2 linked regions of the Homo sapiens genome follow. The protein of the gene in region 2 purifies or fractionates together with the protein of the main gene of each other region. This does not show direct contact. Each region holds a gene or a part of one and is shown on either strand. Other genes may lie near its edges.

Evidence for each region. Proteins that work in one complex are often made in the same cells at the same time.
Region 1: the proteins of HK1 (region 2) and CAPN2 fractionate together in Homo sapiens (co-fractionation; one large-scale study listed by BioGRID). This does not show direct contact.

What each region holds. Positions count from the first base shown.
Region 1 is NC_000001.11:223,750,539-223,754,038, forward strand, and holds part of CAPN2 (calpain-2 catalytic subunit), read left to right. Parts: intron 1-351; coding exon 352-437; intron 438-1,458; coding exon 1,459-1,533; intron 1,534-2,257; coding exon 2,258-2,418; intron 2,419-3,500. UniProt on the Homo sapiens protein: Calcium-regulated non-lysosomal thiol-protease which catalyzes limited proteolysis of substrates involved in cytoskeletal remodeling and signal transduction. Proteolytically cleaves MYOC at 'Arg-226'.
Region 2 is NC_000010.11:69,325,347-69,328,846, forward strand, and holds part of HK1 (hexokinase-1), read left to right. Parts: intron 1-3,500. UniProt on the Homo sapiens protein: Catalyzes the phosphorylation of various hexoses, such as D-glucose, D-glucosamine, D-fructose, D-mannose and 2-deoxy-D-glucose, to hexose 6-phosphate (D-glucose 6-phosphate, D-glucosamine 6-phosphate, D-fructose 6-phosphate, D-mannose 6-phosphate and 2-deoxy-D-glucose 6-phosphate, respectively).

The DNA of each region.
Region 1 (3,500 bases), on a different chromosome or scaffold from region 2:
CAGTGATCTTTCAACAAATGGTAAAGCTTCTCTGAGCTCCTTTACCAAAAGCGCATCCTGTCAGTTAAGCTGAAGTTCAGAGATGAAGCACCAACAGCCCCATCCTCGAGAGCCGGATCCTGGGAGCTTTAAATCTCATTTTCCAAAGCTAGGCAGCAGTGAGAGGTCTGGGTGCCAAGCCCCCTCTAGCTCTTGTGATCCTCCCTCATACATGGACTCAACCCCCAAATCCTCCCCACCGTCCTCAGCCCCATACCTCCTGGCTCATGCGGAAGGGGGTTGGAGGCCCAAGCCTTCATAGCCCTGACTTGAACTCAACCTCTTACTCCTCCCTTTTATCTAATCCTGCAGGTTGAAAGTAACGGAAGCCTACAGAAACTGATCCGCATCCGAAATCCCTGGGGAGAAGTGGAGTGGACAGGGCGGTGGAATGACAAGTGAGGAGGGCGCAGGCCTCGGGGCCCCAGGCGGGGGTGCATTGTGCTGGGAGGCTCTGGGAAGAGGGCGAGAGAAGAAGACATGTGCATTATTCTGAGAAATATAGCCAGGAGAGCCCAGGCCACGTGGACAGGGACCCGTGGACAGGGGCCCCTCAAAGGGTCTTTTAACCAGGACACTCCTCCAGCAGCCTGAGTGCCTTCTTCCAGGCCCCAAGCTGCTCGTGTGAAGTTCATTCCTGCCACTGCCTCCAGGTTCACCCCTTCCCTAGCTCAAATCCACCCTTCTATGGGGCTTTCAGGGAAAAAAATACACCCCACCTTCCCCCAGGCACTTCTATTACAGGGATGTGAACTTTGTACCAAAGGCCAGAGAAACATCCCTCTGTTGATTTCCAGGGCTTACTGGTAGGCATGTTGAACCCTCAACTATTTGGGGTAAACACTTGTTTGTACATCTGCTGTGGCAACCTCAGCCTACTTGCTCTGCCTCAGGTTGGAGAGGTGGGCAGTACAGAGGCCTGTGTGTAATTCCAGCCAAAGCTCAGGCAGTGGTTAGTTTACCCTGTGCACTGCCCCTGTGTACAGGGCCAGGTCCTTCTGCTCCGTGGACAGAGAGACACCTGCTGAGGCTTCCCAGGCCTCAGCCGGAGGCTCCTCATCAGATCTTCAGTTGTCTCTAAAAGAGCTGCCAGGCCCATCTCAATTGGGCAACTGCTCTGAGCTACTCCATCTCCCTCTAATGAACTATGTTCATTTTCTGGACTCTTCCTTGCCACTGTCTTCCAGCACAACTCACCCGCTCACTTTGCTCCCTGGTTTGCATCTGTATAGTGTTCTATACTCTTTAAAGTGCTGTAAGAGTATTAAAATGCAGCTGTTAGCCAGATGTGGGCTACTTTCCCCCTTTCTGGAGCCTGAGCCCTCAGAGGTGAGAGCAGATGTCCCTCTTCCTCAACTCTGGGGCCTTTGGGGAGAAATCATCGTACACTAACGCCTCTCTCTTTACTTTGTTTTCCAGCTGCCCAAGCTGGAACACTATAGACCCAGAGGAGAGGGAAAGGCTGACCAGACGGCATGAAGATGGAGAATTCTGGTAAGATTAGTGGAGGCTTCAGGGAAAGCTCTGTCTGCCCCAATGTTCTTTACTAGAAAACTGCTAATTAGAAAGAGTGTCGGCCAAAGTGAGTTTACCATGTCGAGGACACAAGCGTGTGGGATCCTGGTTTTGTTATTTTAAGTTCACTATAAGAGCCTGAATAAAGAAATTCTTAAGCCCCTTCAACGGTCCATCTTGACAATGGGGTTTATAAGCTGAGCAGCTTCAGAAAAAGGCTAAGAGGAATTCCTTTGGTAATGTTCAGATCCCAGGAAACAAGGGAAAGATGGGGCCTTTCTCCCCCAGGTTCCGGAGACTCATCCCAGCCCCTTAAGAAACTGGTCCCTTAGTGAGCAGCAATGGACCCACATGTCTGTGTGTCTGCGCCACTCTATAACCACCTGCACCTGGACACAACATGCTCTTTATCAAATGGGGCCCATATATTGTCACATTTGATGGGCACGGCTCCCATTTTTGCAGGTGAGAGTTCTGAGCTTCAGAGAAGTTTAAGTAACCTGCTCAAAGTCACCCAGCTAGAAAGTTGCAGCGCCAGGACTGGAATCTGGGCCTTCTGATTCTGAACCTGGTGCCCATCCACTCAGTTCTAATGAGCTGCTCTGCCTGGCTTTGGGTGGCTCCTGGTCTGGTGTTGGTGGAAAGTCAAGGCTTACCAGTGTGTCTTCTTATCACCTGTGATGATTGTCTCTGCTTTTGCCAGGATGTCTTTCAGTGACTTCCTGAGGCACTATTCCCGCCTGGAGATCTGTAACCTGACCCCAGACACTCTCACCAGCGATACCTACAAGAAGTGGAAACTCACCAAAATGGATGGGAACTGGAGGCGGGGCTCCACCGCGGGAGGTTGCAGGAACTACCCGAGTAAGGGCTGTTGCATATAAGGGCTGTTGCAATGCGGGGCCACCAAAGGCCAAAGCTCCCCTTACCCCACCCTGTGTACCACACCCCAGCCTAGCAGCCCCAGGAGGCAGCTCCTGCTCACTGGAACCCTCTCTGTCTTCTTTCTCCCTGAGCCTTTTCTTTTCCCTGAGCCTTTTCTCCCCGAGCTCTCTTTCTCAATCCCTTACCTCCTGCCCTACCCAGGACAAACCCAAGAGCCACTGTTTCTGTGATGTCCTCTCCAGGCCCTAGATTCCCCAGCGCCCATCATGACCTTCAGCCTGACCTTCCGCCATGCTCACGGAAGCAGTGCTCAATCCCACTTCACGGCCATGAGCTGCTCTATGCACCCCACACCCAGGCAGCCGAGCCTACAAGGGAACCTTGTCCCGGCACCCAGGGAGCCCTCCACATATCAGGCCCTGTTTGTTGCCCCATACTCACTTCAATCAGCAAATGTTGACTGGGCGCTGCCCAGATGGGGTGAAGATTTCTCCTCTGGTCCAGCCTTTGTTGAGCCCCTTGATTCTTCTGCCTTCATGGCTTAGTCCGTCAGCAGTTGTCTGAACATGATGACATCTGCCAATTATGGGGCACACCTTCAGTGCTTGGAACTATCCTAAGTGTTTTGTACACAGGGTGAGGATCCATAATCTGAAAATGTGAAATCTGAAATGCTCCAAAATCCAAAACTTTTTCAGCCCCAACATGATACCACAGGTGGAAAATTCGACACTTGACCTCAGGTGACAGGTCGCAGTCAAAACACAGTCAAAACTTTGTTTCATGCACAAAATTATTTTAAATATGCTATAGAATTACCTTCAGCCTATGTGTATAAATTATATATGAAACAGAAATGAGTTTTGTCATTAGACTTGAGTTCCATCCCTAAGATATGTTATGTATATACAAATATTCCAAAATCCAAAAAAATCCAAAATAGGAAACACTTCTGGCCCCAGGAATTTCAGATAAGGGATATTCAGCCTGCATAACATTCTATCTAACCTTCCCAACAAACTTCTGAGGCAGGCACTTTCTTATCACCTCCATCTCTAAGA
Region 2 (3,500 bases):
GGCCATGTATTTTCTTATTCTTTTTTTTTGAGATGGAGTTCTGCTCTGTTGCCCAGGCTGGAATGCAGTGATGTGATCTCGGCTCATTGCAACCTCTGTCTCCTGGGTTCAAGCGATTCTCCTGCCTCAGCCTCCTGAGTAGCTGGGATTACAGGCACCAGCCAATGCTCCTGGCCTGCATTTTTTTTTTTTTTTTTGAGATGGGGTCTCACTCTGTATCCTGGGTTGGAGTGCAGTGGTGTGATCTCAGCTCACTGAAACCTCCATCTCGCGGGTTCAAGTGATACTTCTGCCTCAGTGCCCCCCCCTGCCCCCCAGTAGCTGGGATTACAGTCGCCTGCCACCATGCCCGGCTAATTTTTGTATTTTAAATAGAGACTGGGTTTCACCATGTTGGCCAGGCTGGTTTCAAACTCCTGACCGCAAGTGATCTGCCCGCCTTGGCCTCCCGAAATGCTGGGATTACGGGTGCCAGCTACTGCCTCTGGACTGCATTTTTTTTTTTTGAGACAGAGTCTTACTCTGTCGCCTGGGTTGTAGTACAGTAGCACGATCTCACCTCCCTGCAACCTCTGCCTGCCAGGTTCAAGCGATTCTTCTGCCTCAGCCTCCCTAGTAGCTGGGATTACAGGTGCCTGCCACTACACCCAGCTAATTTTTTGTATTTTTTGTAGAGACGGGGTTTCACCGTGTTGGCCAGGCTGGTCTTGAATTCCTGACCTCGTGATTCACCCGCCTCGGCCTCCCAAAGTGTTGGGATTACAGACGTGAGCCACCGCGCCTGGCCGCTTTTTTTTTTTTTAATGGCTTTTTGTCTCTGGGCATCCTGGAACACTTCGTGAGTGTCATGTCGGGTATGAATTATATATATATGTAATTGAGATTACACTATAAATGTTTCTGCACACAACTATACTAACATATGTGTAGGTGTGTGTATGCTTTCATATGCTCTTTCAAAAGCCTCAGCGAGGTTGTCAGTACAGGAAGTATTATTCCCGGGCTTCCCAGCACGGCTCCCTCCCCAGGGCATCCTGCTGCCTGCCTTGTGTGTTGCAGACAGAAGGCAAGCAATTTATTCCCCATTTAGAAACAGAGACTGAAGGCCCATCCAGAGGAGATAAAACATTTTTCTAAGGTCGAAAGAAAATCAGGAATAGGATTCAGAGGGCTCTTCTTGCTTCCTCTGTTTCCTTCTTTTAGGAGAAAAACCTGTCCTTGTTGATTTTAATGTTTTACCTTGGAACCTGTATTTTAATACTGTCCCCTCACAAATCAATACATTTGAGTTAATTTTTTATTATGAAATATTTGAGGCACATAAAAGAAGATTGAGGTTCACATAAACACCTCTGAGTCTGCTACTCAGCTTGAGAAGTTATAGACACAATTACAATTACATTACAGACACAGTTGAAGCCCTTTCTATGCCATCTCTGAGATAGTTTGCTGCTTCTCCCTTCGGAGGTGACCTCTGTCCTGAATTTGGTGTTTATCTTTTCATGCATGTTTTTACGCTTTTATTACATATGCATATGTCTATAAACAGTATATGGTATTGCTTTATAGATATATGGTTTTGATCTTTTGTAAATGGTGCTATACTGACTATGTGTTTAAGCAATATATGGTATTGCTTTGTGTGGTTTTAAACTTTTTTTTTTTTTTTTTTTTTTGAGATGGAATCTCATTTTGTTGCCCAGGCTGGAGTGCAGTGGCACGGTCTCAGCTCACAGCAACCTCTGCCTCCTGGGTTCAAGCAATCCTCCTGCCTCAGCCTCCTGAGTAGCTGAGATCATACCTGGCTAATTTTTTTGTATTTTTAGTAGAGACGGGGTTTCACCATGTTGGTCAGGCTGGTCTCAAAATCCTGACCTCAAGTGATCCACCTGCCTAGGCCTCTTTCCAAAGTTCTGGGATTATAGGCCTGAGCCCCCACACTCAGCCAGTTTTAAACTCTTATAAATGGTGCTATACTGTATGTATCCTTCCGCCATTTACTTTCTTTTAGCTCAACATTGTATTTTTGAGATTTTAAAAATGTTGATCTACGTAACTGTTTCATTAAACTGCTCTGGTTTCTTACAGAGTATAAAAGCTCCCTAGTTAATTCATCTATTCTGCTTTTGATAGGCATTTGTGTTTCTAATGTTTCAAGTGACAAACAATGCCTTGGTGAACTTTCTCTAGAACAACTCATTCAGCGCATGCACAAGTTTCTCTAGGCTCTAAGCTGTGTACCTAGGGCTGAGATCACCAGGCGGAGAGATGTGTGCGTTTTCCCATATACGAGATTCTGCCAAGTTGCCATCCGTGGTCATGCCAGTTCACACTCCCATCGGAAGTATGTGCAGGTTGCCTTTGTTCCACACCAACCCTTGTTATGGTCAAACCTTTGCAAATTTGTAATAGATGAGTTTTAGTCTGTTTCCTTCCTCAGTTGTTTCCATTCACATCACAGTATTCGAGCTGTGTTTAAAATTAGCCCATTTCCTGAGTTACCTTATCAGAGTCCTTGCTTCAGAGTCCCACGGACTGAAGTTGACAGCTCCATGGACTGCTGCTGCTGAGATATCTGCACTGGGGAGGGATAGTTGATGCAGGGAAAGGCTTAGGATGGCTCTCCATGGCCCCTGGTGCTGTGGGCTGACTCCGTTAAGCTTTTCTGGGAGTTGAAACACACATTTGTGAGCTTTCACTTGCACACACTTTCTCTCTTCCCGGGTGGATCCGACCCGGGTAGGGCAGGCTTATCTGTTGCGTAAATGTGCCCAGCTCTGCTCAGAGAAAACTCAAGCCAGCAGCCTCTCAGACCGTCTTCCGTAAAAGGAGAGGGTGGCTGTACCCACGTGGCAGGGAAAACTGAACCGTGAAGTCGGCGGCTCAGCCCTTTGCACACAGAAGCTGAGCTGTCCCTGTGCGAGGCAGAAAATGTCGGCTCATGTTCATCTTGAGTCTATGCCTGATTACAGGCTCCAGACTCGGAGACCTCGAGGGTGCCTTACAGGGAAGGGGGCATTCAGTGCCTACTAGGCGCCCGGCTTTTCTTTTTCTTAGCAGGGGTCTTATTTAATCATTTCTAGTACTCATATGAACCAAAGCCAACATTCATTGTTGTATTCATTGCCATGTACTGTGCTAAAGGCATCGTGAGCCTTTGCTTAGTTCATCCCCACAACGCCCTTGTGAGGTGGGTGTGATTTCAGACGGTGAGGCCCAGATAGTGAACGATAGAGCCAGCATTCAGCCTCATCAAGGCTGATGGCAGAGCTCCTGCTTTTATTATTTTCTCAATTGAGTTATAATTCACCTACCATGAAACGCATCATTGTACAGTGTACAATTCAGTGGTTTCTAATAGATTTACAAGGTTGTCCGAGCACCATCACCATCTAATTCCAGAATATTTTCATCACCCTCCGAAAAAAACTACCCGTTAGCAGTCACTTCCCATTTCTTCCTCCACCTAGCTTCTGGCAACCACTATCTACCTTTTTTTT